2 separate regions of the Homo sapiens genome follow, and region 2 is linked to region 1. The links come from fine-mapping of genetic effects on gene expression. Tissue or cell type: aorta. Region 1 holds a variant in brackets; the other region holds the start of a gene. All regions are shown on one strand. Distances are from middle to middle. Region 1 overlaps SNX7 (sorting nexin 7). Region 2 holds the start of SNX7 (sorting nexin 7).

The links.
Region 2: it holds the start of SNX7, and the variant in region 1 is fine-mapped to the expression of SNX7 in aorta (GTEx, PIP above 0.99). The same link has a PIP of 0.9 or more in esophagus mucosa.

What each region holds. Positions count from the first base shown.
Region 1 is chr1:98,677,356-98,689,395 of GRCh38, forward strand. SNX7 (sorting nexin 7) reads left to right here. Exons shown (of 9, transcript NM_015976.5): 2 at 7,530-7,712. Among named protein-coding and RNA genes, the nearest start is that of SNX7, 22 kb to the left of the region's middle. The variant G/T (reference allele first, on the strand shown) is at 4,796.
Region 2 is chr1:98,656,653-98,668,692 of GRCh38, forward strand. It overlaps SNX7 (sorting nexin 7), which reads left to right and starts at 5,069. Exons shown (of 9, transcript NM_015976.5): 1 at 5,069-5,259. The coding sequence starts at 5,080. SNX7-DT (SNX7 divergent transcript) reads right to left here and starts at 4,120. Exons shown (of 1, transcript NR_189290.1): 1 at 3,655-4,120. RefSeq lists silencers at 4,871-5,010, 5,031-5,150, 5,381-5,450.

The DNA.
Region 1 (12,040 bases):
GCTGAGGAGGCATCCTGCATGGTTGGGGTTGAGAATAAGGCTGCCTTGGCCTACGTGGTCAGAGCAGAGGAGGAAGCCGGTGTGGTTGGGAGATTGGTTACATACAGGGGAATTGAGCCAATAAGTAAACATTTGGGATAATAGGAGCCAGGTTTCTCACTGCTGACTAAAAGAGTTATAAATATGGAAAAGGGAAAGGCTAGACAAGCCATGACATGTCAAATTAGAAATAGAGGTATATAGGCCAGGGGCAGTGACTCATGCCTGTAATCCCAGCACTTTGGTAGGCCGAGGTGGGTGGATCACGAGGTCAGGAGTTCAAGACCAGCCTGGCCAAGATGGTGAAACCCCGTCTCTACTAAAAATACAAAAATTAACCAGGCGTGGTGGCAGGCACCTGTAATCCCAGCTACTCGGGAGTCTGACGCAGGAGAATTGCTTGAACCCGGGAGGTGGAGGTTGCAGTGAGCCCAGATCGCACCACTGCACTCCAGCCTGGGTGACAGAGCGAGACGCTGTCTCAAAAAAAAAAAAAAAAAGAAATAGAGGTATATCATTCTAATTTGTGAACTCTTGGTATTTTATATCTGTATCTAGCCATAGATCTAGAGCTGTATGAGTCTGTGTGTGTGTGCGTGTGTGTGTGTGTGTGTGTGTGTGTGTGTGTGTTAGTCTGTTCTTGCATTGCTATAAAGAAATACCTGAGGCTGGGTCATTTATAAAGAAAAGAGGTTCATTTTGGCTCATGGTTCTGCATGCTGTACAGGAAGCATGGTGCTGGCATCTACCTGTAGTGAGGGCTTTAGGCAGCTTACGATTGTAGCGAAAGGTGAAGGACGGCCAGCATGTCATGTGGCCAGAGAGGGAGCAAGAGAAAGAGGACGATCCAGGGTCTTTTAATAAATCAGATATTGCCTGAACTCATAGACTGAGAACTTACTCATTAACATGAGGATGGCTCCAAGCCATTCATGAGGGATTCACCCTAATGATCCAGACACCTCCCACTAGGCCTCACTGCCAACATTGGGGGTCACATTTCAACATGAGATTTGGAGAGGGCAAACATCCAAACTATATCAGTGTACATATGTATGTGTATGTCTCATATATTTATTTCCTAGCATTAATATCTTGGTTTTGTAAATACCAATCTTCTCTAAAAGGAACCAGAGCTCCTCGGAGAAATGTCTCATTCCAGAGCTTGGGCAGGGAAATAACAAAATATTATAAACTTGAAACATCTTGTTCTAAAAAGTAAAGTGCTCAAAGAATAATGAAGACATAGCAAAAACATACTGGTGCAGCTTTAAGGGGCTCCCACTTGTCAAACTTGGGACTGTTTAGACATCAAAATAAATTATGATGTTAATGAATTATATCCACTGAATAAAATAGGAATCTGTGAATCTGTAGTCATATAATTAATTTGAGTCTATAGTCATATAATTAATTTAAACAAAATATTATACTCTTTAGTCTCCTTAGTGGAAAACCTATTGATGGTATCAACATTGAAAAATAAAAAATAGCAGTATACATATATACACTAATATAGTTTGGAGTGAGAGGGAATGAATAAATGAATAATGAACACTCAGGAAAACAAAAACTGGGCTGGCACAGTGGCTCACACCTGCAATTCCAGCACTCTGGCAGGATGTATTAATCTGTTTTCACACTATTAATGTGTTTTCACACTGCTGATAAAGACATAACCAAGACTGGGCAATTTATATAGGAAAAAGGGTTTAATGGACTTACAATTCTGCATGGCTGGGGGAGCCTCAATCATGGTGAAAGGCAAGGAGGAGCAAGTCTCATCTTACATGGATGGCAGCAGGGCAAAAGAGCTTGTGCAGGGAAACTCCCATTTTTAAAACCATCAAATCTCGTGAAACGTATTCATTGTCATGAGAACAGCATGTGAAGACCTGCCTCTATGATTCAATTACCTTCCACCAGGTTCATCCCACAACACATGAGAATTGTGGGAGTTACAATTCAAGATGAGATTTGAGTGGGGACACAGCCAAACCATATCACTCCACCCCTGGCGCCTCCCAAATCTCATGTCCTCACATATCAAAAACAATCATGCCCTCCCAACAGTCCCCAAAGTTTCATCTCATTTCAGCATTAACTCAAAAGTCTGCAGTCCAAAGTCTCACGTGAGACAAGGCAAGTCCCTTCCACCTATGAGCTTCTAATATCAAAAGGTTAGTCACTTCCTAGATACAATGGGGGTACAGACATTGGGTAAATATACCCATTCCAAATGGGAGAAATTGGCCAAAACAAAGGGGCTACAGGCTCATGCAAGTCTGAAATCCAGTGGGGTAGTCAAATCTTAAAACTCCAAAATGATCTCCTTTGACTCCATGTCTCACATACAGGTCACACTGATGCAAGAGGTGGGTTCCCATGGTCTTGGGCAGCTCTGCCCCTGTGGCTTTGCAGGGTATAGCCTCCCATCTGTCTGCTTTCATGGGCTGGCATTGCGTGTCTGTCTGTGGCTTTTCCAGAGGCACAGTGCGAGCTGTCAGTGGATCTACCATTCTGGGGCCTGGAGGATGATGGCCCTCTTCTCACAGCTCCACTAGGTGGTGCCCCAGTAGGGACTCTGTGTGGGGGCTCCAACCCCACATTTCCCTTTTGTACTGCCCTAGCAGAGGTTCTCCATGAGAGCTCCATCCCTATAGCAAACTTCTGACTGGACATACAGGCATTTCCATACATCCTCTGAAATCTAGGTGGAGGTTCCTAAACCCTAATTCTTGACTTTGGTGCATTGTCTGTCCCAACACTGTGTGGAAGCTGCCAAGGCTTGAGGCTTGCACCCTCTGAAACCATGACCTGAGCTCTATGTTGGCCCCTTTCAGCCATAGCTGAAGCAGCTGGAGTGGCTGGGACACAGGACACCAAGTCCCTAGGCGGCACACAGTATGGGGACCCTGAGCCCAGCCCACAAAACCACCTTTTCCTCCTAGGCCTGTGGGCCTATGCTGAGAGGGGCTGCCATGAAGACCTCTGGCATGCCCTGGAGAGATTTTCCCCACTGTCTTGGGGATTAACATTCAGTTCCTTGTTACTTATGCAAATTTCTGCAGCTGGCTTGAATTTCTCCTCAGAAAATGGGATTTTCTTTTCTATCACATTATCAGGCTGCAAAAGTTCTGGACTTTTATGCTCCGCTTCCCTTGTAAAACTAAACGCCTTAAACAGCACCCAAGTCACCTCTTGAATGCTTTGCTGCTCAGAAATTTCATCCACTAGATACCCTAAATCATCTCTCTCAAGTTTAAAGTTCCACAAATCTCTAGGGCAGGGGCAAAATGCCACCAGTCTCTTTGCTAAAACATAGCAAGAGTCACCTTTGCTCCAGTTCCCAACAAGTTCCTCATCTCCATCTGTGATCACCTCAGCCTGGGTTTCATTGTCCATGTCATTATCAGCATTTTAGTCAAAGTCATTGAACAAGTCTCTAGGAAGTTCCAAACTTTCCCACATTTTCCTGTCTTCATCTGAGCTCTCCAAACTGTTCCAGCCTCTACCTGTTGTCCAATTCCAAAGTTGCTTCCACATTTTCAGGTATCTTTTCAGCAGTGCCCCACTCTTAGTACCAATTTACTGTGTTAGTCCATTTTCATGCTGCTGATAAAGACATACCTGAGACTGGGGCATTTGTATAGGAAAAGGGTTTAATGACTTACAATTCCACGTGGCTGGGGAAGCATCACAATCATGGTGAAAAGCAAGGAGGAGTAAGTCACATCTTACATGGATGGCAGCAGGCCGAAAGAACTTGTGAAGGGAAACTCCCATTTTTGAAACCATCAGATCTCATGAGACTTATTCACTATCAGGAGAACAGCACGGGAAAGACCCGCCCCCATGATTCAATTATCTCCCACCAGTTTCCTCCCATGACACATGGGAATCGTGGGAGTTACAATTCAAGATAAGATTTGGGTGGGGACACAACCAAACCTTGTCACAGGTCAAGGCAGGAGGATTGTTTGAAGCCAGGAGTTTGAGACCAGCCAGGGCAACATAGCAAGACCTTATCACTATAAGATATTTTTTAAAGCAGTAGAAGAATGAAAATGTAATCATAATTCACTATATGGCTTGGCTGTGAATAAAAATAATTTTTTTCTTAAACCTCTATCTACCTTAAAATGGTGATAAGATGATGGGAGAGAGAAAAACGTATGTATATATTTGAGAGAAAGGAAACATTGCCTATAAAGTAGCTTCGAATAGGTCTATACCATAATAGAAAGTGAAAGGTGAGAAATGGTTCCGGATTGAAGGGGACCAGAGATATAACAGTTAAATGTAACAGATGAACCTGGATTTAGTTCTGTACTAGAGGGGAAGAACATTTTAGGATATTTTTGGGACAGAGAAATTCAAAAGGGTCTGTGGATTAGACTGTTGTATTGCGTCAGTGCTAATTTCCCGATTCAAATACCTGGATCGGTACTATGGTTAGGTAGGAGAGTATTCTTGTTTTCTGAAAATACACACAGACCTATTTAGGAATAATGGGGCAACATGTTTCTAGCTTACTCTCAATAAGTAAAAGTTTTCTCATCCCTCCTTTTCTCTCTTTTGCTTTCTCTCTCCTTAACTTTCTTACACCAATTATAATTTATCTACAGATCTAACATAGGCATGCTTCCTATCACATTTATGTCATTATCAGTTTTCTTTTCTTCCTTTTTTTGTCCTTCTTTTACTTCCTTTTTTTAATTCCCTTTCTTCCTTGTTTTTCTCTCTCACCTTCTCT[G/T]TTTCCTTTCCTCCTCTGCTTATTCCCCTTTCGTATTCTGTTCTCCACCATCCCCTTTTCCTTCATCCCTCGCTTCCTTTATTCTTTCTCCTTGTCATCTCCTTGATACCCTGGATATTTATTTTCCTGGTCCAGTGTATATGGGCTGTTCTCTAGGTTTGCTGCAAAACTGTCAATGTAGAACATTATTTTCCAGGGAATTCCCTTTACTTTGATCTTCTGTTGTATCTCTTGTTTTTAGATTCTATTTTTTTCTTTCTTGGCATATTCTCTTATTTTGGAGAAGTAAAGAAGCTTCCAAAGAATAGGTACATGGGAAGTAAGTTTTTGAAATCTTCTATTTCTGAAATGGCTTAATTCTACCTGTATATTTGAATGACAATTGCCTGGATATGTATAATTCTAGGTTGAAAATACTTTTCTCTCAAAATTTTGAAGACATTAGTTTATTATCATGTAGTTTCCAGCATCACCATTTAAGAACTCTGATGCCATTCTGATTCCCAAGATTCCTCCTTTATTTTACTTATATTGTTTCTTAAATCTTTAGGGAATTTAAAAATCTCTAGTGTTATGAAATGTCATGGTGATGGATGCTTGTAGGAGTACTACCTACCCAACCAGTGTCCTGTTCATTTTGGGGAGACCTCACAGGCCCTATCAACTTTATGTCAAGGATATTTTTCTTTCTCATTTTCTGGAATTCCTTTTATTCAGGCACTGCCTGCCTGTATCCTTCAATTTAAAAAATCTTCTCATTTTCCATCTCTTGTTCTTTTGGTTCACATAGTAGGACAGTTCTTGAGCTCTGATTTTCAGACTTTCTGTTGCATTTTTATATTGCTATCATATTTTAATTTTCATGAGTCTCTTTTTTGGTTGGTGGTGTTGCTGTTCTCTGAATTTTCTTTTTAAAAAGAGCATGCTTTCATTCATGGATTTAATATTTTCTCTTATCTTTCTGGTGATTTCATGGTTTTTTAAAAAGTGTTTATGCTCTGTTCTATCTGCTTCCTCTAATCTTCTGTTTTGGTTTGTTTGTGACTTTATTTCACGTCAGAGCCTTTCCTCGTGTTTGGATGTTTGGTAGATCCTACACCAAATAATAAAAAGCAGAGTAGACATTCTGCATGCATGGTAGGGGCTTTGATGTAGGGTGGTTATGCAGAGACCTGGCTAATTCATTAGGGGACTACAACTGTCAGTTTTTCTCCAAGATCAGCTAAGAGAGGAAACTTCCAACTATGGTGGGTGCTGTGGTATGAATATTTGTGTCCACCCAGAATTCATACATAGAAATGCTACTGCCAAGCTGATGATAGTAGGAGGTGGAGCCTTTGGGTGGTGATTAGATCATGAGCGTGGAGCTCTCATGATTAGGATTGGTGCCCTTATAAAGGACCCCAGAGAGACCCTCCCCCCTTTTACCATGTGAGATTATAGTGAAAGGAAGCTGTTCTGTAAAGTGGGCCCTCACCAGACGCTGAATCTGCTGACATCTTGATCTTGGACTTCCTAGTTTAGAACTGTGAGAAATAAATTTCTGTTGTTTGTAAGCTACCTAGTTTATTGTAGTTTTCTTTAATAACAGCCTGAATGGACTATGATGGGGTGGGGGTTGCACCTTCCTGCCAACGTTCTTGGGACCAGATGAACAGGTTTGCATGTCTTTTAGTCTGGTATGCAGGACTTTCACTTGATATCTGTATTTTCATAGGACTTCTTCCCTATCCTACTGGATGCCCTCGAGCTCAGACCTTTCAGAAAGTAGACTTCCAGTGTTCTACCAAATTGGGGTGGGAAAGTTACCTGATTGCCTAGGGTAGGTGAGGGAATCTGAGGTTCTAACTCTTGTTTTATTAGATCTTCTTAATAACCAATCATCTGGTTTCTGCTCTGCCACAACCTTTATGTCCACAGGTTCTTGGTGCCTCCAATTCTTGAACCTTTCTGGCATTCTACATCATAAATATCCTTGCCTCTTCCTAGTTTACTGTTCTCTTCTAGATTACTTTTCAGTTTTCTCTGCACTGCTATTTTAGTTACCACTTGACGATCAGATCTCCAGTTTCCAAAAAGCAGTTGGCACATTTCGTTTACCATAGTTTTTTTCTTCTTATTCTTGCCTGAGTCCATTAGTGCTACTGTGACAAAATATCTGAGACTGGGTAATTTATAAATAATAGAAATTGATTTCTCACAGTTCTGGAGGCTGGGAAGTTCAAGATCAATATGCTGGCAGTTTTGGCCTCTGGCAAGGGATGCTCTCAGCTTCAAGATGGTGTGTGTCTTTTTGTTGTGTCCCCACATGGCAGACAGTGAAAGGGCAGGAGAGGCACTAGCTCGTTCCCTACAGCCCTCTTATAAGGTGGCTAGTACCATTCATGAGGGCTCTACCCTTATGACTTACTCACCTTTAAAGGCTCCACCTCTTAATACTATTGCATTGGGGATTAAGTTTCAACATGACATTTGGAGGGAACAGAAACATTCAAACCATAGCAATCCTTGAGGGTTTATACTTTTCATTTGTTTGTTTCTTTCTTTACTGTCATCTTTTGGGTGGGATTTTCAAGAGGAAACAGATAAAAATACATGTTCAGTATACCACATTTAACTAAAAGTCCAATAATCCCTTTTGTTCTTGATATATTTCATTAATATTGATAGCATCTAGAAATAGAAGAGTTTAATTTTTCTATTGATACTAATTTTTGAATGTTTTATTTCTTAGGATGCCTCATTGATGGACATGAACTCCTTCAGCCCTATGATGCCAACATCCCCTTTATCAATGATAAACCAAATCAAGTTTGAGGATGAACCAGATTTAAAGGATCTCTTCATCACAGTTGATGAACCTGAAAGTCATGTTACTACAATAGAAACTTTCATTACGTATAGGATTATTACTAAGGTAAACATTTGGTGAATATTTTCTTGAATATAGCTGCTTTTTTTTAAGCTTTGGAAGTAAGTACCTCTTGTTCATTATAATTCTGAACATTCCAAGATCTTAGCTGAATTGACTTTTACTTTTTCAAACCTTTTGGCTAACACATTGCTTCTTATCTGCCCTTCACTTGTTCTGTATTAAGTCAGTGAAATTCAACTTGACTTGAGAAATAGTCACTCATTTTATAGCAGCTATACTTCTTAGAATAAGAATATCTAGGTTTTTAGTTTAAAAAAGTATTAAGAAATACCTTTGGAAAAGATGGGCCTCAAGTTGTTAATAAAAAAAGAAAATGCTTAAACAGTTCGCAATATTATGTATTCAGATTTCTTTGGAAGATTATAAAATATGGTACCATTTGTTTTTCAAAGTGGGACAGGTGGCCACTTTGTCTCATGTATGAGATACTGTTATGTGTGCAATAATTCAAGAGCAAAGTAGATCTAGAACACAGATCTCTTTAATCGTAGGGCGAAGTGCTACAAAGACAATTTACCTCAGACACAATTAAGCAACCACCTAGTATAATCTGTATTTTAAGTCCTTTATTTAATAGCATTTGAAAATAATTCTCTTTATAATATTTTGTTTATGAAGCGTCACCCTAGACTTTTATATTTCATAAATGTAAAAAGTACATCTCTTTTTTTAGCTGAAAAAGTTCTGAACTATGTTTCTATAATCACTTCTTCCAATGAAACTGCCACACTGCTATTAGTTATGTTTCCTGAAGATATATATATCTTATTTCTTCACTTGAATTCTTAAAATCCTTTCTTGGCCCCTTATTTCAGGCAGAGCAAAGTGCCGACTTTCTTGTATGACATATAAAGAGGCTTCTCAGTCTGGTGCCCACTTACCATATAAGACTTATTTGTTACACCTCACATTCAGTACCTTGCTTTCCACTCAGGTAGAGCTGCTTCTGTTTTCTGAATATTTAGGGGATCTCTTGCTCTCAAAACTGCATATAGTTTTCCTTCTGTTTGCTGTGTCCATCCCCTTCTTAGACAGAAGAAGTCATGCTTAGTTTTCAATATACAACTCAAAATGTTAGATGCCTGTGAAAGCTTCTCTAGTTGTTACTGTCCCCTGGCTGAAATAGTTATTCTTCCTCTGTTTTCTCATACTGTTCTATTGAACTCTTAAGGAATGTAAAACATAAGAGTCAATATAGCAAAATATCAAAAGCATATATTTAATCCAACTAAGCTGTTTTTTTAAATCAATGAAACTGAGATAATAGAACTCACTTCTGTAGGGTTGCAGTAGAATAAGTAATCAATGCACACCCCACTTAGTAAAGTGCCTAACACACGATAAGTGTTCAGTAATTGCCATCTACCTGTATGTGAATAGATGTTTATTTGTATTTATTCTCAGTGAGTTTGTGAGTTTCTCAAGGAAGGTAACTATATTTTAAGTTATCCATAATTCCAAACACAAATCTTAGGACATAATAAGTAAACTATTTATTTTGTTGATGAATGAGTGAAGGAATTATCTTAGCTATATCAAGATGTGGTAGAGCAAGACAACATGGAGTTGAATCTTGATTTCTCTCCTTCCTTGCTATGTGACTTGGACAATTTAATTAACCTCTCTATATTAGTTTTCTTGTTTGTAAATAGGATAACAGTACTAACCTCATAAGGTCTTTATGAAGATTGAATATGTTAATACAGGCATACTGCTAGAGTAGAGCCAAATTTCTTCTATTACTACTGTTATAATTATCTATTGTCATTATCCATTCTAGCAAATAATTTGTGAAACTGAATTATTTTTCCATCATTTGCGTCTCTCAGAAAGACACTCTTTCTAAAGCCACCTTGTGAGTTTCATTCTGATCATAGACATACTGCTCTTCTGAGTTTTTCTATTTACACATACTTTAAATGGACTGGTCTTATAGAAGTAGTAATAGTAGTAGTAATAATAATATGAAAATATATAAACTAGCAAACATTTACTGTGTGACTGCTTTGTGCCAGGTAATATTCTAACCAGTTTCTACATGTTAACTCATTTAGGCTCACAGTAATCCTCAAACGTAGATATTATGATTTACCCCCATTTCATGCACGAGGACACCGAAACTTAGTAGCTTGTTAAAGGTTACACAACATTGTAATTAGCTGAGCTGGGATTTAAATCCAAACAGTTTACTTTCATAGTATACATTTTTTCTATTATATTTTTGTGCATTTAGGTATGGATGTGGTAAACTTTCAGTTTAACTATTATAAATGACTTCCATTGTTCTACTTCTAATTACTTTTACTATTTCATAGTATATAGACTATATCTATATATACAGAAATATATATTACAGATACAAATATATAAATAGTACATGTAGATCATGTTATCAAATAGTCTTTTCTTATTATCATTTACTTACTTATTCCACAAGTTTTATTGAGTACCCCGTTTGTCCCAAGTATTGTGCTTATATATTAAGAATATATCAGTGATCAGGATAGGTCTGACAAAAGGAACTTTCTGCTTTCCTGGTGTTTTCACTCTGAAGAAGGGGTGTTTGCATATGATGATATTAAATAATTAATTTTGTACTGTGTTAGTTTGTTCTCATGTTGGTAATAAAGACATACCCAGTACTGGGTAATTTATAAAGGCGGGACATTTAATTGACTCACAGTTCCACATGGCTGGAGTAGGGGGCTCACAATCATGGCAGAAAGCAAGGGGGAAGCAAGACACATCTTACATGGAAGCAGGCAAGAGAGAGCTTGTGCAGGAAAACCCCCATTTATAAAACCATCAGATATCATGAGCCTTATTCACTACCATGAAAACAGTATGGGGGAACTGCCCCTATGATTCAATTATCTTCACCTGGCCCCGCCCTTGACACATGGGGATTATTACAATTCAAGATGAGATTTGGATGGGGACACAGCCAAACCATATCATATACTAAGTAATTTCTTTATAGTTATAAATATTTTGAAGGAAAAATATTGGATATTATGAGCATGGGATACACCATCTAATTTGGAGGTTGAAAGATGGCTTTCCTGGGAAAATCTTAGTTTTGTAAATATTTATATTCATGGGTACTAAGGATTGTAAGGGTAAATGAATATACACATACATACATGGACAATCACCTATTTAGGAATACTTAAGAATGATCCAACTGTGAATGATTGTATCGGGAAGACCACATTTGTGGCATCTGTTCTTTTTATGGGAAATTACCCTTTGTTGTCTAGGTTAGCATATTTTAAGTGACTGTTATAGAGAAGTATTTTCTCTTTTGGAGATCTAAAGATGTACGTTCTCTTAGTACATATAAGAGTAAGAATGAAGAGATTTAACAAGGTACTTTCCTTCCACTTCCTCTTTGTGAAAACAAACCTATAAATGCCTGTCATTGTATAGTTAGGAGTTAAGCTGTATTCTTGATTGGCTGAACTGACTATTAAGTTTCATTTTCCCTCAAAAAAAGTTTTCTAAATAATGAGTTTAGAATAACTGTTCACACTTGACTGAAGGTTGGTATTTTTGGAATAAATGCTTTTGGGGGTAGAGATCACACAAGTTCATTAGTACTAAACTTCAAATACCCAAGCTTTTATGGTCAAACATGAAAAATTGGCCAGCATTTTCAATGTTGCTTCCATAGAAAACTGTATTCTATGTTAGAAGCATTATTTATACTCCAAATGCACTTTATGAAATACATGATATTTCTAAGTTGGATATATGTTATCAAACCCAGTTATTTCTACAGTTTGGAAGCTTTTGTTTGGAAGCTTTTGTGCATCTTTTTTCTTTTTTTCTTTTTTCGAGACAGAGTCTCGCTCTGTCACCCAGGGTAGAGTACAGTGGCGTGATCTTAGCTCACTGCAACCTCTGCCTCCTGGGTTCAAGTGATTCTCCTGCCTCAGCCTCCTGAGTAGCTGAGATTACAGGTGCGTGCCACTACGTCTGGCTAATTTTTGTATTTTTAGTAAAGATGGGGTTTCACCATGTTGGTCAGGCTTGTCTCGAACTCCTGACCTCGTGATCTGCCTGCCTCGGCCTCCCAAAATGCTGGGATTACAGGCGTGAGCCACTGCGACATCTTACAGTGATCAAATTTGTCCACTTTAGAAGGGACAATGATTCTATTACTTGCTGTAGGGAAATTAGTCTTGTTCCAAACCCTGCTGATAATGACTGTTTTCCTTATCATATTCCTACATATGTGTCTCTTACAACCCTTCAAGAGAAGAATGAAATCTTACAGTAGGAAGAAATAACATATTCTTCTCGTTGCT
Region 2 (12,040 bases), 21 kb before region 1:
GCCACCATATTTGGCCTCTTTTCTATTTTTAAAGACAACATTATGTAACATTCTTTTCAGTGAGGAGTAAATTATTTCCCACTTATTACTTACCTTGGGTAAATTACTAAACTTCTCTGTTCATCAGTCTCCTCATCTGTAAAATGGGGATGGTAATAATAGCGTCTACATCCTAAGGTGTTTGTGAAGATTAAATGAGTGCCCATGCATAAAGCACTTATAAGAGTGTCTGACTCAAGTAGACATTCACTACCTTTCACTGTTTTTTTTTTGTTTTGTTTTGTTTTTTGTTTTTTTGAGACAGAGTCTCGCTCTGTTGCCCAGGCTGGAGTGCAGTGGCGCGATATCGGCTCACTGCAAGCTCCGCCTCCCGGGTTCACACCATTCTCCTGCCTCAGCCTCCTGAGTAACTGGGACTACAGGCGCCCACCACCACGCCTGGCTAATTTTTTCTTTCTTTTTCTTTTTTTTTTTAGTTGAGACAGGGTTTCACCGTGTTAGCCAGGATGGTCTCGATCTCCTGACCTCGTGATCTGCCAGCCTCAGCCTCCCAAAGTGCTGGGATTACAGGCGTGAGCCACCACGCTTGGCCTACCTTTCACTGTTAATATTACTGATGAGCCTGTAGAGAATAAGGATACTCTGTGGGGCCTGTGACAAGTTCTGAAAGAAAATCAAAAAGACTAATGTTTTAGAGCAAAATGTGCTCTCTCTGATAGATTTAAGAAACCAGCCATTGGCTTGTTACCAGGTTTTGGCGAAGATGAGTGCGTTAGTCTGTTTTGTATTGCTATGAAGGAATACCTGAGGCTGGGTAATTTATAAAGAAGAGAGATTAATTTAGCTCACAGTTCTGAAGCCTGTACAAGCATGGCATCAGCATTTTCTTGGCTTCTGCTGAGGCCTCAGGAAGCTTACACTCATGGCAGAAGGCAAAGGGGGCACAGACAGGCATGTCATAGGACAAGAGAGGGAGTGAGCGAGAGAGAGAGATTCAGAAAAAGAGTCAGAGTGAGAGAGAGAGAGATAGGTGCTATGCTCTTTTTTTTTAAACAATCATTTCTTGTGTGAACTAATAGAGCAAGAACTCACTCACTACCACAGGGAGGGCACCAAGCCATTCATGAGAGATCCTCCCCCATGACCCAAACATCTCCCATTAGGCCCCACCTCCAACATTTGGGATCACACTTCAACATAACTTTAGGAGGGGACAAATAGCCAAACAATATCAACTAGATACATAAGCATGTGACATCAGGTGACTATGTGATCCAAGCAGCTCCTCATGAAATGGGTGCTATAATGAAAAAAATCCTAAAATTGATCCAGCCTTACTTCAGCAAGCCATGCTCATGTGGAAATGTAATATTTGAAAGTGGTCCTATAAGCATACATTGCATGAGCATTTGGCTTTTACTCTCAGCAGGTCTACCCCTATGATCTCATAGGGAGTTTTATCTGAACAGTTAACTAAGGGGTAAAAACTCCAAAGTTGGTTTACAGATGGATCTTTATCATTTGCGGGAATCAGTTAGTAGTTATTGCAGTGCAAAAGGGCAGTGGACAAGGGAAATCCTCCTCTTGGTATACAACAGTGCCCACTATGCTTCAAAGGGCAGTTAGAATGAGGCTTCTATGCTCTTTCCAGGACAAAGGCTAGAGGTTTGACTTGATGAGACTTAGAAGAAACAAGGTAGGATCTCGGGGTCAAGAAGGTTTGAGAAAATGTATGTAGGTGACTTTCTTGGAATGGCCCCAGAATAAAAGCATATTTGTATGTAGCCCACAACAATGCTCTCCAAAAAAGCCTTTTCATTTGATGAATTTATGTCATCAGAAATAAGTTTGAAAATAATGCTTATTCTCCTGTGGATGTTAATCTTACTGCTTTTCTAGAAACTCCAGTGCTTGTTCTATGGCTTCACATACCATGTGGCCATGGTGGCAGGGATTTATGCTATGCATTGGCTCAAAAATAAGGATTTCCTCTCACTAAAGGATAATTGGCTGCTTCCATTGCTCAGCACTCAGCTTGCCACAGCAACTATGCAGGACCCTTACCCTGCCACACTGGAGGATGCCATGATTTGTCTTTAGTGGAAAAGTCAAATTGGCTTTGCTTTTTCTGCTCATCAGATTTCCCTCAACACGCTCGTCCATGAACTTATTGACTGGTCTATTCCTCAGTAGATTTTGCACATTATATTTTTTTCTAACTAGTTAAATCACTTTCTAGCAAAAGAAGTAAAGCCTTTGGGCAATGCCCATGGGGTAACTTGTCTCATCACAAAACCCATTACTAGAAACAGCAGACTTCATAGATGGTGGAATTGAATATTAAAGATCCAGTTATGGTCTGAAGAGATCCCATCTGGAAAGTATAAGGGAGAGAAAGCTTTTTGACAAGATGTATATTCATGAAACCATAAATTAATGTATGATATTATTTCTCTTAAACAGGACAGGAGTGGGTAGGGCTGCTCTTAATATTATACTTGCACTCCAAGTTTTGGACTATGCTGGTTTAAAGGCTTTAGTACCCAAGTAAGAATTCTTCCATTAAAAAACCTAGTGATAGGCTGGGCACGGTGGCTTAAGCCTGTAATCCCAGCACTTTGGGAGGCCGAGGCGGGTGGATCATGCAGTCAAGAGATCGAGACCATTCTGGCCAACATGGTGAAACCCTGTCTCTACTAAAAATACAAAAAATTAGCTGGGCGTGGTGGCGCACGCCTGTAGTCCCACCTACTCAGGAGGCTGAGGCAGGAGAATCGCTTGAACCCGGGAGGCGGAGGTTGCAGTGAGCAGAGATCACGCCACTGCACTCTAGCCTCGGCGAGGGAGTGAGACTCTGTCTCAAAAACAAACAAACAAACAAACAAAAAAACCCAGTGATAGTCCCACTTAATAGGAAGCTGAGACTACAGGAGGAATAGACATACTGCTTTGGAGTTGTACTAATAATGAGTAGGTTTGGGATTATCTCCCTTTGAGGGGCTGTGAACTGCATGCTCAGGTGCTCAAAGCATGGAGGTAGGGGGAGTATGTGAAGAAAGGTAATATTAATTGGACAGCCAAAGGGGCAAATTATAGTCACGTTTTCCCTACTCTTCTTCCTCATCCTACCCCTCTTCCTATTTTTCTTGTTTTTGGTTGACAAGCATCAATATGGCCTTTCTATGTTTAGAAAATTCTCTGCCTTAGGAATTTCCATGAAACTTGGCCAGATTGGCCAAGCACACATACTCTCCAGGGTTTTAATACTAGAAAAATCAACACAGAGAAACAGGGTGATGGAGACATTTTTGTGGCAGTAATAGCAGGGAAGTTCTCAGAGGTAGCTGTGGTACTGCTGCCAGGGAAAGCAACTGGAGTCCAGTAACATCAGTGTTAATGACAATATTGACACTGGTGAAGATGGTGTGGCAACCAGTATCAGGCAATGGTAGCAGCAATGTCTGTACCACTGGTTCTGTGGCCTTGCTTTTGGCTATAATCCAAGCTGTGCAGCCTTGCTTTATTCTGCCCATTTTCTGAGCCCATTCTCTATGGTTTCTAGCAATTCTGTGAGTTACAGCATTATTAAGAATTTCCTGGTTCAGATTGCAATTAGAAAACCTTGAATCTTCCTTACTAGTCAGAATAAGCTTATCAAGGAAAAAATAAAGTCTTTTAATAACTTATATTATTTACAGAAATTAGCAGAGAGCATTTTGAGAGTACATCTGATACTGTGGTTAATACATATCAGGATCCTCAACCTGAAAATGTTATCATTTACTAAGGAATGGAAAACTTGTACATGAAACAAATACAATCTGCAAGATGGAATAAAATTAAATGCTAAATTGAGAACAGACTGTCATTTAGAAAGTCTTTCTGAAAGAGATGGGACTATATTTAATTTCTGAAGGATGGGCAGGAGATGGCATTTAAAGTACAGAAATCATCAAGCACAGAAACAAATGTGGATACTCATGGGGCAGTGACCAACCTGACTGAAGGGTGGGTGCACGTCTGAAATCAATGGGAATACATTTGAATGATTAGGAGATAATATATTATTAAGGCCTTGCCTCTAATCAGAAATAAAGATATTCTCTATTTCCCCAAATAAGGAATTCTTACATAGAGCTTAATGTATTTAAAAATTTTTAAATGGGCCTACAGAAAAGAGGTGGGGCTGACGGAAGTAAATAAAACCTGAAGATAAATTAAAGAATATATCAACGTGGGCAAAATTTTCCATTAGTTTTGGAACTTAGTTTTGTTTTTGAATAATAAGCAGTTAAATAATTAAAGCTTTGCCTTGGCAATGCAAGGACTGAAGATTATTTCTCGGTGGCAATTTTCCAGACTTGCTAGTTGTCCTTGGGTCTTGGTAACATTCTGCTCATTAACTTCAGGAAGACGTCCAGGAGTAAAGATGCATTTGAAAGTGGCTGAAAATAGTTTGTAAAGCTCAGCTTTCCTGGCTCGACAGTGAAATGACCGCACAGGCCAGTCACTGGGTCAAAAATCAATTAACAAAACGGGAAGTTTTCATGTCTTTATTTTTACATTAGCTCGAAAATCACAACCAAGAAGAAAGGCAACCACTGAATACAGGAAATACAGTATTGTTATTGCTGTTTTTTTTTTTTCTCTTGGCAAGGCTGGGTCGGGTGCCTTCCAGCCTCGCTGTGGATCCCGCGAAGTGGACGGTTCGCTTCGTGGCTTCTTCCCAGACCCCGCCACTGCGGAAACCGTCACTCGGTGGCCCCCGACTGGGTCAATGCGAGGACGCCCACCTCCTACCTTTGAGTCTCTCCTCTTCTCCAGGGTACAGCCAACCCTTTCTCCAACGTAGCCGGAGTCCGAGAGTCCCAGTTCCGCCCCTCCAGCCCGCCCCAGGCCAGGTGGGGATGCGCCCGGCCCGGGCCAGCGCTGGTCCCGGCAGTTCCGCGTCTGCGCAGCGGGCGAGGGGCTGGAGCGGGGCCGGCCGGGGAGGTGCAGGAGACGTGGGAGCCAATGGGCACGCTCGGGGGAGCCGGGCTGGCGGCGGCGGTGGCGGCCGGCTGGGCGCGCACTCTCGGGATGGAGGGCGAGCGCCGGGCATCGCAGGCGCCCTCCTCGGGCCTCCCGGCCGGGGGCGCCAACGGGGAGAGCCCGGGGGGCGGCGCCCCCTTTCCGGGCAGCAGTGGCTCTTCCGCCCTGCTGCAGGCGGAGGTGCTGGATCTGGACGAGGACGAGGACGACCTGGAGGTGTTCAGCAAGGTGAGGGCGGCGGCGGCGAGTCCCGGGAAACTTCCAAGGCAACTCCGGGCGTTGCCAGCATTGCGCCGACGGCTGCCTCTGGCGCGCTTGCCCTCCCGGGGCGGTGGCTCTGAGCTGGGGACGAGTGAGGTCCCCCGGGCTGCTGGACCCCGCCTGCCAGCTCTGGCCGCACCCGGGGCCGCGTCGCCTCGGGGCCTCAAACCGCAGCCGCTCCCTCCTCCGCACTTTGACCTTCCGTTCGGCGGGGCTGTGGCTTAGTGGAGTCTGCAAAGTTGTGATTTGTTTTCCCTTTCTGCTTCTCTGACACAGACATCTTCCTCGCGGCAGCTCCCGAACCTGGGAGGCTGGTGGCTCAAAACCGCTCCCGCCAGCTGCTTTTCGGGCGAGGCCAGCCCTGAACTCTGGGAGAGCAGCCAAGTTTAGAGAAATTATTCTTAATTTAGTGTTGTTGCTTGTGGATTTGAGACTTGGGTGAGTCTCGGGTCTTGTGGGAATAGGTTCTAGGAAATCTCCCTGAACAGGAGAAAACGGTTGTTTCTAACAGGAAGCTCCTCCGCTGAGGAGCTAAGGATTTTTCAGATGGTCAGCTACTGCCACCCAACCCACAGCCAGTGCTTTCGTTTTTCCTTGCCCCCGGGAAATTTAGGACCAAAGGCTCTTATTTGCTTATTTTACTGTTGGAGGGAAATTGACTTGTGGGGGCTAGTGGTAGACTTTTGGTACGTGTAGACTGGTGTTTGTAATTTCTTAAAGGGTTTTAGAAAAGAAAAATACCTTTCTTGCAGGGAGGTTGAATGTCACTCCAGTTTCTCAAGTTGCTGCTGAGAGAAGACCTGAGTTCAGATCACAACGCTGTATTCATTACTAAGAAGCCTGTTCATTTTAACGTTACCTGGAGATATTAGGTAAAGCAAACGACCTACTTAACCACCGCATTTACTCTGGGAGAGCAAACCAAAGTTAGGAAGTGACCATGCATACTCTGACTCCAAAGAGGAGTATATAAAACTTATTTCTACTTCGGTTTAAATGGAATGATAGGCCCAGGTTTGTATTCCGAATATTTAAACAGACTATCACAGTTTTGTGCTCTTGACTTTTCTGTTAAGTAGTAAAACAATGGAATTATTTTATGTTTAGTTGTAAACTCTGCCTTTTTATATTCCACACATACTTCATGTTCAGATCAACGACAGTTGGCCAGTTGGTTATTTACTTTCTTTCCTTCTTTACATTGCTGTTTGGATAAGGAATATTAGTCTATGGTTATGCATTGTGAAACTTTGGGATGGGATGTTGGAAATAGCAATGGTGTATCAGAATCATCAGGGTTTCTTTCTGGTTTTTTTTTTTTTTTTTTTTTTTTTTTTTTTTTTTTTTTGTCGGGGCTGGACCCATCTGGCCTCAAGGGATTCTACCACCTCCAGCACCCAAAGGGTTTGGGATTACAGGCTTGAGCCACAGTGACTCGGATTGTTTTAAACTTGTCAAGTGGTTTCTCTTTCCCCAGATTCTAGGTGTTCTAGCTGACTCTTAAGAATCAATGTTTAAATGAGGTCCTCTTGTCAGAGGCAGATCCAAGGTGAAGCTAATGAAATTGAAGCTTCAGCGCTATTCGTTTGCTTAGACCTCTGGGCGTGTTGGGGGTTGCTGGAGTCGCAGATGTTCTAGGTGGGAAGGAAATGACAGGTCCCGACCAGAAGCATTTCTAAATAAGCATTTCTGGTGAATTGCCTAAAGCTCTCTCAGACTAAGGAATCTAGATCTCCATGGCTCCAATCATTTATTGAGATTTCTTTTCTCATTCTGAATAATGTGTTTTTCCACCTAATTTTGTATTCTTTTAAAAGGGGACCTTCCAAACTCTAAAAGCCCGTACACCTGGGTCCACCCTGCTTGTTAGTGTTAACTGCGCGTGTTGGATGCTTAGAAAAAGTTAAGAACAACTTCTGTAGAAACTGCCCACATAGATTAAGGCAAAGATATAATATTAGTGAAAATCCAACAAGAGTAGTTGGAAAAGTTTAAAATTAGCCACTTTCATCCATTTCAGTAAGTTGAATTTCTCAACCGTTATCTGTAGTTAAGCAAATTTAAGAAAGCCTGCTCCACGTGGCCTTCCCTTTCCACTACCTTCCTTGCCTGCTCCTCTATAAAACAAACACCACTGCTGTTCAGCCTATCCTAGGATGGAATCTCACAATTACTTATGAAGCAAACTGTCCTTCCCTTTTAGTAATTTGAGATTGGCAAACTACATATTTAATTTACATTCACCTTTATAGTCCCCTTATTCTCTTAGATTATTTGTGAATATGTGTCTGGTATACTCTTCCAGAAGCTTTTTAAAGAGTATGAATTTCCCCAGCACTTTGGGAGGCTGAGGCTAGCGGATCACTTGAAGTCAGGAGTTCACAACCAGCCTGGCCAACATAGTGAAACCCCATCTTTACTAAAAATATAAAAATTAGCCGGGTGTGGTGGTGGGAGCCTTTAATCCTAGCTAACCGGGAAGCTGAGGCAGGAGAATCTCTTGAACCCGGGATGCAGAGGTTGCAGTGGGCTGAGAGATCACGCCACTGCATTCCCACCTGAGTGACGGAGTGAGACTCTGTCTCAAAAGAAAAACAAAACAACTTCTTATTATTTTTTTTCCACAACGTATTACAAGTACATGGCAAATATACATTTTGTGTTAAGTATGCTTTAAAAAAAAGAAATACAAGATTTAGTTCTTGCTATCACAATCTTATACTCCAGGTGGGAAGATGTGACAAACTCTAAATGGCAATATAAATCAAGAGGGATGGAAAGTAAAACAAAGTTGTTCTGAATTTTCTTATAATCCAGTGAGAAGAAAATGATGCCAGACCTCAAGAGAATGCAGAGGACATTGATTTAAAAGAACGGGGATAGATGTTAGAAGGAAGAGAACAGAACCAATCATACAAAAACAGTAAAAATAAAAAAATAAAAAAGATACACAAATGGTAACAAGAGCCTAAGAATTATTTTAGAACTAGGTCACAATGAGATGAGGCTTCCAAAAAATTTAACTGGAGAAAAAGGGCCAGTTTCTTCACGTTTAAAGGAAAAAATCCTCCTCTTTGGGGAAAAACAATAAATTAAAATAAATTGCCTTTATTTTTATTGAATACTGTATAAAAGAAACAGCTGTGGATACAGTGTATGTGATTAGGCCACAATGAAGCACTGAGATGCTTATCTGGTACTCAGTAAATGATAGCTCTAATTGGCCTCTTTAAAGATATTCGGGATCATAAAAGTGAGATATATATCATCTAGGATAATCAGGGAACTTACAGGTGTAATCATCCTCATCACCACTAGTCATCTTTGAGAAATCATGAAATGCAATAATGGTTCCCTGAAACTAGAGATAGGTAAATATTGTTTTTAAAAATAATGGGCAAAATGGGAGTTCTGGAAGGTAGCGAACAGTAGGTTTCATTTCAATCTCCAAAAAAGCCATGAAATGAATTATTTAGTATGTTGTTTATACACACTTTGAAAAAAACATGATCAATAGAAGCTACAAGTTTTATAAGAATAATGAAAGACTTAAGATTGTGTTTATGGTAAATCAGAGTTATAATGACATGATTGAGCAAGGCTTTTGAAAAAAATCACTCATTTCTTCAGAAAAGGTTATTTATTTATTTGTTTATTTTTTGAGATGGAGTTTTGCTCTTATTATCTAGGTTGGAGTGCAGTGGCACAATCTTGGCTCACTGCAACCTCTGCCTCCCGGGTTCAAGCAATTCTCCTGCCTCAGCCTCCTGAGTAGCTGGGATTACAGGCATGCGCCACCATGCCTGGCTAATTTTTTGTATTTTTAGTAGAGACAGGGTTTCATCATGTTGGCCAGGCTGGTCTCAAACTCCTGACCTCAAGTGATCCACCCGTCTCGGCCTCCCAAAGTGCAGGGATTACAGGCGTGAGCCACCGTGCCCAGCTGAAAAGTTTATTTCTGAAAGAATAAAGTTGAGACATCTAACATACACATGTATACATATCTTTATATGTATATATATATTTTTTTCTTTGTCAATTTGGAAATTCAGTATAGTGATGGAGCGGCATAATTATACTATTCATCTATTCTATCAAATAATTAGAAAAAGATTAGGAAGTCCTGCTTACTAATTTCTCACATATATTCTCTGCACAGTCTATTTGGTTTCTGTTGTGTGCCTATATCAGTCATCACTCTGATAAAAATCAGAATTCTCTCCAATGATTTAAATGAGAGTTGAATGCGGGGACTATTTATGGAATTATTGGCAGAGTTAGTGAACAAACAAGGAATACTGAGGCATTTAGAGAGTTGTAGTGGGAAAAAGCTATTAGCATCCCTAGCTTTAAAGGGACAAGAAATGGAAATAGCATTGCTGGAAACCAGTCAGACCTGGAGCTGTGGAGATGGGGACACTTCTTCAGGAACTGCATTTACAGAGAGAGGTAGCTACTGCCGGAAACGTGCCAAAGCAGGAGGAAATAAGGGGTATGTTCCCTGAATTCCTCTCCTCCTGCCTTTGGATCTCCTGCTTGCACTCCTCTTTGAGTGGTCTTGCTAAGGTGATGTCATCTATAGGTGCCAGCCTCCTAGGGCACAGAAAATAGATGGGTGGGGTCGTAGGACATAGTACAACAATGTGGAGAGTTACTTTCAATAAAGGTGACTGTGTCAGTATCTCTCATTGTATATGCTCTTCTATGATGTGACCTGCCACTCTCCTACGGAGAGATGGTATAAGTGCTGCTTTCCTTGAACTTGGGTGGGATTATGACTGCCTTGATCTATAGGATATGGTGGAAGTGATGCTGTGCAACTTCCCAGGCTAGATCATGAAAGGGAATGTAGGTTTCGTGTTGTCCAGTGGGACACTGTGCTTTTTGGAGCACCATGTAAGAAATGCAACCTAAAACCTCCATGTTAGGAAACCCATGTTACATTGAAACCATATGTAAATGCTTGGTCAGCAGCCCTAGCCGAAGTCCCTGGCACTATCCAGCATTAAGTGGCAGGCTTTCATGTGAAGATGTCTGTATGATTTCAGCCTCCAGCATTCATGTGCCCTCAGCCATCAAGTCTTTTCAGTTGAGCCCTCATGTATAATGGAGGAGAGACAAGACATTTCTGCTGTGTGCTTCCTGAATTCCTGCATAAACCAGTGAGCATAATAAAATCTAAAACAATAAAATCGTTTTATACGACTATGTTTTCAGATTGTTTGTTACACAGCAGTAGTAACTATAACAATAGCTAATAGTCTGTATATCATAATCAGCCTTCCAAATCTTTTGATAAGTTAGAACATTGTATTCAGAAGTAGACTATGGAATTTAATTGGGATAAATATGAAGTTCTGAAGAAAGCTCCATTAGTCATTGTAAGTAAAAATACCATTAAGATATAAGCTTAGTGGTTAGGAGTAGAAACTCTCTTTTCTTTTTATTTGAGACAAGGTCTCACTCTGTCACCCAGGCTAGAGTGCAGTGGCGTGATTTTGGCTCACTGCAACCTCCACCTCCCAAGGCTCAAGCTATCCTCCTACCTCAGCCTCCCCAGTAGCTGGGACTACAGGTGCACACTGCCACACCCAGCATTTTTTTTTTTTGTATTTTTAGTAGAGATGGGGTTTTGCCATGTTGTCCAGGCTGGTCTCGAATTCCTGACCTCAGGTGATCTGCCCACCTCGGCCTCCCAAAGTGCTGAGATTGCAGGTGTGAGCCACCACACCTGGTCCAGGAGTAGGGACTCTAACTACATTGCCTGCATTTGAAATCCTGGCTGCACTGCTTACTAGTATTATTGCCTAAGGCAAGTAACTTAATGTCAATGCGTCAGATTTTTCATCTGTAAAATGAGGATAAATACTAATGACGATTACATGCCCTAATATGTATGTTCCCCTTTCCCTAAGGCCTACATCCTGATCTTGTCTTAGTGGGCCTTACCATTTTGATGATTAGGAAAAAAAAAACAAAAAAAACAAAACAAACAAACAAAAAAAACAATAAAACAAAATAGGGCTGATCCAGGACTACTTATATTTCTCTTGCAAAAAATTTCACTCTGTGCCATTATAGCTCTCTTATAGGTTAAGTATTCTTTTATATTTCTCCTTGGGGAGGAAGTCTAGGTAGGTGAAATAGAAAGAAGGTGAAAAGCTCTAAGTTTCTCTTTTTGAGGTAGCATATATGATCAACAATAAAACCAAAACAAGGAAACTTCAGAATAAGTTTGGGGAGACCTTGTATAGGACCATTTTATGTGCAAACATTCCTAGTGGTTTTCAGTGACTGAAAAACCAGTATACACAAATGACATGATATTGAATTTAAACACCATATTTTCAAGGTCATATAGGGTATTAATTTTAATGTAAATTTGAACTCTCCATGCCACTTCAGAAGATCCATTCCACTCTCAGCATTTTAAAAGGAGAATTAACAGTTGATGTCAAAAAATGGCAGAGGAATAAGGCCTCATCTTCAGATGCCAGTGCCTTGTTATGGATTCTTTGGAATACTGTGTTAAGATGGAGCTGAAATCTGGTCTGAGCTTAGAAAGAGGGCTTAGATCCATTAACACTGTCTTCCTTTGGCACAGGAAGTAGCAACAGTTTTGACACACGTATTTGCTATCCATGAAAGAGAGTCCACTAAGGGATTTCACTGATGATATGTTCTGTTAACCATGGCCTGTGAAGAAAGTCTGGTGAAGAACAAAAAGTGATTTAGCTTGGAAGAGATG